2 linked regions of the Homo sapiens genome follow. The protein of the gene in region 1 purifies or fractionates together with the protein of each later gene. This does not show direct contact. Each region holds a gene or a part of one and is shown in the gene's direction. Other genes may lie near its edges.

Region 1 (3,753 bases):
ATCAAAAGCATTTTTTTTCTCTCCTGTAGTACAATGGTATATTCATGCTTTCAGCCCTTACTTAGAGTTAGAAGCATCACTTGATTGGCGCTTACCACAATGCATTCTGAAACTTCATTTGTTATTACTGTTTTAAAAATTGCATTTCATGGAAATCTATTTGTGGTTTGTGACATCGGAATTGTAGTTTAGAGAAATGACCCCGTGCATTAAAATGTTGTGTAGCATTTGTTCTAGGTTGAAGGTGAAAGCTTGATGACTAGATTTGGTTTCATTGATATGCTGATGCCTATGCTGCTTTCCACTAGAAAGCTTAGATAGAAGCTCAGCTGGGGGCTGCAATTGTCAGCTGTGTTCTTTGGGTAGGACACAATCTTCCGGGAACTAGCTCTTCTTTCAAGTAACCATCCTTGCACTACCTGAAGATGATAGATAATGTGGGTCTAACTCCTTTCTTGCCATGCACTAAGCACTAGAGTGTAAAGGGGGGATAAACAAGTTTAAAAGTTCACTGTTTGTCGTTAATGAAGCATCCTTTTTGTCATTTGGGGTTTTCATTTCCAAGTTCTTCTAATTTTGTAAAACAGGTAGCAGGCAAAAATACTAAGCCTCATAATCCTAAGAAACATATATGGCAAGAAAACAAAGACAATGTATTTTATTGAAGCGATTCAGTGCTTACTGGAAAATGCCATGCTACTCCAGAGTCTAAAGCAGGATAATCGGTGAAGATATATACTGTGAGCCCACTAATTTTGTGTACTGTATCTTGTGTCATCTTCTCACTTGCAAAAAAAAGGAGGTACATGCCTTAAGATAAATTGAAGCCATTGTATTTGCAATGAGAAGTTTTTCTTAATACAAAAATTGGATTATTCAAAGTTTTAGTATTTGAAAAGTCATTAGAATTCCTAGGAACCCTTTCATTTGTATTATCCAACGGTGCACTCAAGGATCTGAGGGGTTTTGTTTTTAAAAACAAAAGAAAAGAATTAATATGCCAGCATCTTAACTGATTTATGTTTTTGACTCTTGTAAATGGAATGTGAAACGAGAAGATCCTAGGGAAGTCTCTGGGAGAGCTGGCATGTTATTTTGTCTCCAGCCTTAGGTTTGTCATCTGGGAGCTAACTAAGAGCCTTACAGTGACAGTGGCTGACACACGAATAATCAGTATTGAGGAAAGTTCCTGATTGGGTTTCCTTGCTGTAGAACTAAGCCTTCATCTGGCCATTTCACACTTTAGAGAGCTAGTGATACATAGTGACTAAATGCAGTTTGGTGTAAGGGAAATAGACATAAAAACAAGAATTCATTATGATCCATGCCTTACTTCCCCTGCCCCCATGCAGGAAACAGACAGAAAAAAAAATCAGATTGATTTACCCAAGGCCAAACTAATGATTGACTTTTTATGCTGTATTGTTCTTCCCCAAACCTCATATTAGATGCTATGCTGATGGTGGCAGAGAGGCTAGAGGGTCCTTTCAACATTGAATCGGTCATGGATCCCATCGATGTGAAGATTTCTGATGCTATTATGAACATGCAGGATAATAGTGTTCAAGTGTCTCAGAAGGTAATGAAGGCAGGATGCTGGAAAGGGGAGCTAGGGACCTCCCCCGCCTCCGCCTCCCGCCTTGGGAGTGACTTCCCTAACATGACGACACTTACTCTAATGCAGGTTTTCCAGGGATGTGGACCCCCCAAGCCCCTCCCAGCTGGACGAATTTCTCGTTCCATCTCTGAAAGTGCCTTCAGTGCTCGCTTCAGACCACATCACCCCGAGGAACGCCCAACCACAGCAGCTGGCACTAGTTTGGACCGACTGGTGAGCGTTTTGGCAGGAAGGGCCGTGTTTAATGACAAAGAACTGAAAACTCTTGCTCAAAATGAATTTTTAGCTGGAAGGCTAACAAGTGTGGGTCTTTCAGGTGTCACTTTTCAAGCAAATAGGATGTGGATGTCAGTCAATCTGCCTGTCCCATTTTCTAGCCCAGAAAGTTCTTGGGTAGCCAAGGAGTTATGATGCAATAAGTCTTGTCTCAAAATTTCTCTTTAGATTCACCATGCATTTATTGAACATCTACTATGTGCCCATCACTGTGCTAGGCATAGAGAAGCTCAGAGAAATAAGGCAGATCCTTGTTCTCAAAAGGCACCAACAAGGAGGCAAAGAGGGAGAAGTAGATGTTCCAGGCTTATTAACATAAAATGATGTTTAGTAAAAGCTGAGATGGGAGAAAAGTGAGTAACTGTAGGCAAATTGCTTTATCCACAGTAATATGCTACAAAAATGTAAGAAACTATTCCTACAGTAGTAGGAACACAGAAGAGGGAGCCTGAGGAGACAGGGATGGAGAGAAAGAGCAATAGCAGCTATGTTTCACAGAGTGCATAATATACATGCTTGATCCTGACTCTAAAAGCCTTAGGAGAAGAGACTGCATGTTATCTTTGTGCCTACAGGGCATGGAGACTGGTAGGCCTCAGATGGTACTTACAATGAGGTGGGCAAGGGGTCTAGGCCACTCCTTTGGAGCTTGCATTTCAACTATTATTTGAGTGGTTTTGTACTTCTAAGATATAAATTGGAGTTGCATCTTCCTCTTCTAATTAAAGTTGAAAATGAATTGCATATCACTCTGGAGATACTTTGGAAATGGCCAGAAGGCACACTTGTAGGTAGTTTTGTCTTGTCTTACAATGATCTTTTTTTGTTGTTGTTGTTTCATAATTAGGTTACTGATGTCAAGGAGAAACTGAAACAGGCCAAGAAATTCTGGTCCTCCCTTCCGAGCAACGTTTGCAACGATGAGAGGATGGCTGCAGGAAACGGCAATGAGGATGACTGTTGGAATGGGAAAGGCAAAAGCAGGTTAGTGTCTGTTGAATGAATTTGAAGTTTCTCCCTTCCTAGATGCCTGGGTGACCTTCAGAGAGGGTTCTCTCAATTGTCAACCGAGGCATCAGGAAGCAATTCACAGTAGGTAGCAACAACATGGAAGGCTTCTAGGTGTTCTTAGGAACAGGCTTTGCACTAGGAGTGTTGAGAAGGCACCCAGTTACTTACAAAGAGTGCTGAGTCAAAAGTTTGACAGTAGTTATAGTCTCGTATTAGGGCTGTTCCAATAGTGTCATTATTTTTAAAATATTTAATGCCTGTGGCTCTTTGTCCAATGGCCTAGCCTCATAAATAACCAGTTCTCAAAGGTTCCATTCTCTGACTTGATGCCCTGTGTCCCTCCCTTAGACGCTCAGTAACTTAGAGAAGTACCCATACTTTTTTTTGTTTGCTTGTTTGAGATGGAGTCTCGCTCTTTTGCCCAAGCTGGAGTGTAGTGGCACAATCTCGGCTCACTGCAACCTCCACCTCCCGGGTTCAAGTGATTCTCCTGCCTCAGTCTCCTGAGTAGCTAGGACTACAGGTGCCTGCCACCATGCCTGGCTAATTTTTTTTTTTTTGTATTTTTAGTAGTGACAGGGTTTCACCATGTTAGCCAGGATGGTCTTGATCTCCTGACCTTGTGATCCGCCTGCCTCAGCCTCCCAAAGTGCTGGGATTACAGGTGTGAGCCACCGCACCCAGCCAGTACCCATACTTCTTTACTTCAACCCACCATCCTCCTCAAGAGGGATAGCTAGCTTCCTTCCTTCCTTCCTTCCTTCCTTCCTTCCTTCCTTCCTTCCTTCCTTCCTCCAACAGAGTATCACTGTCACCCTGCTAGAATTCAGTGGCACAATCTTGGCTCA
Region 2 (3,753 bases), on another chromosome or scaffold:
ACTTCTTAATAAGGCCGTATACACAGTAGTGTATAATATATAATAAAAAGAGACAAATTTGAGTTCTAGTGCCGCATGTTATTAGGTTGGTGCAAAAGTAATTGCTGTTTTTGCCATTGAAAGTAATGGCAAAAACCACGATAACTTTTGCACCTACCTAATAAAAGCCACATGACCTTGGATAAGTTGTGTGATATTACTGAATTTAAATTTCCTTATGTAAATATTGTGGACATTCATACATATTATAGGCTTGTTGTAAGGATCAAATTGTATAGTGCTGGTAAATGTTCTTTGGGTTTTTTAGTTTGGTTTCCTCTGCCCTTTTTATTTTATTTTTATTTTTATTTTTGGTAGAGACAAGGTCTCACTGTGTTGCCCAGACTAATCGTGAACTCCTGGCCTCAAGTGATCTGCCCACCTCAGCCTCCCAAAGTACTGGAATTACAGGCATGAGCCACCGCACCCAGCTCTGTTCCCTGTCCTTTGGAATCTACTAGAAGTAAATGTTCTTTGTAAAGGGCTGTCTGTGGTAAAAAATAGAATGACAAGGTGATGAGAACCCCAACATGAGTAGCAGAAATAGATAAAAGGTCTCACAAAAGAGTGCTTGGAAGATTTAACCAATAAGTGAGGGACAGAAGAGAATAGTCAAGAGCTGCTTGAGTGCCTTTTCTTGGAAAACTTAGTTTCAGCCTTACATTGAACTGTTCCCTCCCTGAATTCCTCTAGCACTTACACTGCACATGGGAATTAAGCTGTCACTTAATATGACATACTGTCTTGTATTATTTCACCAATTTGTATTTGCCCGTTTTCCTGTGAGTGCTTCTCTGTAGTGATCAACACAAGATAAGTACTTTTAGCATTGAATTTCGCAGAGAAAAAACTTGAGATCTGCCACCTCAGTCTTCAGAAACAGCTTTAGAGGATGGTGCCTCTAATTGTTTGAAGACTGAGGGTACTGTGGGAGAGAACTTGGGGAAAAAAATGTTATTCTCAGTGGAGCAGGATCTGAATGAATAGAGAGGCTTTTGCTGTGTGGGAATGAGAAGCTATTACCTTTAATATAATTTTTTTTTTTTTTTGAGACAGAGTCTCGATTTGTCGCAATCTCCACTCACTGCAACCCCCGCCTCCCAGGTTCAAACAATTCTCCTGCCTCAGTCTCCCGAGTAGCTGGGATTACAGGCATGTGCCTCCATACCCGGCTAATTTTTGTATATTTAGTAGAGACAGGGTTTCACCATGTTGGCCAGGCTGGTCTCAAACTCCTGACCTCAGGTGATCCAACGGCCTCGGCCTCCCAAAGTGCGGGGTTTACAAGCGTGCGCCACCACACCCAGCCTAATATAATTTATTTAATTTGATGTGTCTTGATTTGGGCGGGGAGGGTTTTTATTTTATTTCTGCAGCTGTAGTTTCACTTGCCATAAAGAAGTGTAATAAAGAGATGCAAATATGCTCCTAGTTTTCCCTAAGCAGATGTGAATTTCTACTCTTATGAAACTGACTTTAAGAACACAGCAATTCTTGTTTCCTGATCTTAAAAATAAGTATGCAAATATAATCTTTCCGCCTCCATCACAGAATAACTTGACTTAGATCATTGCAGTATGTTATTTTGCCCCAAATACATCAAAGCATTTTCTTCTGCCTGGCAGTTATAAAGAAAAGCTGCTTGCTTAATTTGTTTTGGCTATTAAAGTTGATATGTGGTGTTAAACCATGCTTTCCAGAAGCTATTATCTAGACCCTTTTAGCCTTATACCTGGATTTCTGTCTCCTGGCTGGCCTGTCAGCCTGATCTTAAAGCACAGCTTTAATCTGTTTACATCAGACTCCTTTGAGAATTAGTTAAAATTAACAGATTTTTGGACCTTTTTTTAGGCCTGAATATCTGCATTTTTCTTCACATGTCTCTATTACCTCTGCATTTTAACAGTTACCTCCAGGTTGAGAACTACTGGCTTAAATGATTTTTTAAAGTCTCTTCTGGTTCTGACATTTTAAGGTTTTTGTTTTGTTTTTAAAAGCTATTCTGCTTAATAGTGGTTTCTTTAAAATGTTTATAATGAAGAGATCCTGAAACTCATATGATACTTCAGCCTCATTTTGTAGACAAGGACACAAGCAAAGCAACTTGCCCAAGACCACACAGTGAATTAGTAACACTTACAGAACCTGGCTCCCCCAGTGCTTAATCCAGTGCTCTTTCTTTACTCAGCACATTGCTTCCCATACCAGAGTGTGCCTTGTGCTATCTAATGTGCTAGCTAACGTAGTAGTGGGATGAGCATCTGTTGTGAGGTGGAAGACCTAGGCTGTGGCCTTGGCTTTGTCACCCACCAACCATATGTCCTTAGGTATCTCCTCTTTTACTCTACTGGAAGATATCTTAGCTTGTCAGACTTCCAGGTGATATGCTTGTGCCCTGTTACCTAGCTCTGACAAAGAAGATGAACGGTTTTATAACATTACTATAATTGTGTGTGTGTGTTTAATGAAACAAGGTGCTGGCCTTTTAATACTGTTGCAAACTGATCTTTATTAGCGTCTCAAAACTCATTATTTTTTATTTCCTCAAAATAAAAAGTATGTGTGTGTCAAAGGCCACTATCAAGAAAGTGAAAAAAGACAATCTACAGAATGAGAGAAAACATTTTCAAATCATATATCTGATAAGGGTCTAGCATCTAGACTATATAAAGAATTTTACAACTCAGTAATAAAAAGACAGCAACCTAGTTTTTAAAAGGGCAAAAGATGTAAATAGACATTTCTCCATAGAAGACGTACGAATGGCCCATAGCACATGGAAAGATGCGCAACATCATCAGTCATTAGAGAAATGCAAAGTAAAACCACAATGAGAAACCACTTCACGTCCACTAAGATTGCTATAATAAAGGGGGAAAAAAAAGGAAAATAACCTGTTTTGGTGAGAATATGGAGAAATCAGAATCTTCATATATCGCTAACAGGGATGTAAAATGTGGTGGCACTCTTGGAAACAGTTTGACAGTTCCTCAGAAAATTCAACGTAAAGTTAACCATATGACCCAACAATTCCACTCCTAGGTGTATACCCAAGAGAACTGAAAATGTGTGTCCACAGGAAAACTTGGCACACAAATGTTCATAACACAGTTATCATAATGGCCTAAAGGTAGAAACAGTCTGTCAGCTGATGAATGGATAAATGCAATGTGATATATCTATACAATGGAATATAATTTGACCGTTAGAATAAAGTATTGATACATACTACAATATGGATGAATCCTGAAAATGCGCTAAGTGAAAGAAACCGATCACAAAAGGCCATATATAGTATGACTGCATTTGTATATCCATAGAGACAGAAAGTAGATTGTTGGCTGCCCGGGGATAGGGGACAGGAATAAGATGTGACTGCTAATGGGTATGGAGTTTCTTTTTGAGGGTATGCATATATTCTAGAATTAGATAGTGGTGATGGTTGCATAACCTTGTGAGTATACTAAAAACCACTGAATTGGCATTATTTTTAAATAGTGAATTTTATAGTGTGTGAACTATATCGCAATTTTAGAAACTTATTTTTGTCTTTCCTGGAGTAACCCTTAAAGTTTCAAATTATTATTTCTTTAAACTATATGTCATGTAACACAGTGGTATCACAGACACTGATTACTTTAATACTATTACTTTAATTACTAATTAAAATATATATATATATATATATATATATATATATATATCTGCCTGCCT

The links. The genes of interacting proteins can lie anywhere in the genome.
Region 2: the proteins of GPC4 (region 1) and SPCS2 purify together in Homo sapiens (affinity purification with mass spectrometry; 2 studies listed by BioGRID and IntAct, with this or other methods). This does not show direct contact.

Annotation. Positions count from the first base shown.
Region 1 is NC_000023.11:133,303,850-133,307,602, reverse strand, and holds part of GPC4 (glypican-4 precursor), read left to right. Parts: intron 1-1,448; coding exon 1,449-1,579; intron 1,580-1,684; coding exon 1,685-1,831; intron 1,832-2,741; coding exon 2,742-2,878; intron 2,879-3,753. UniProt on the Homo sapiens protein: Cell surface proteoglycan that bears heparan sulfate. May be involved in the development of kidney tubules and of the central nervous system.
Region 2 is NC_000011.10:74,952,145-74,955,897, forward strand, and holds part of SPCS2 (signal peptidase complex subunit 2), read left to right. Parts: intron 1-3,753. UniProt on the Homo sapiens protein: Component of the signal peptidase complex (SPC) which catalyzes the cleavage of N-terminal signal sequences from nascent proteins as they are translocated into the lumen of the endoplasmic reticulum.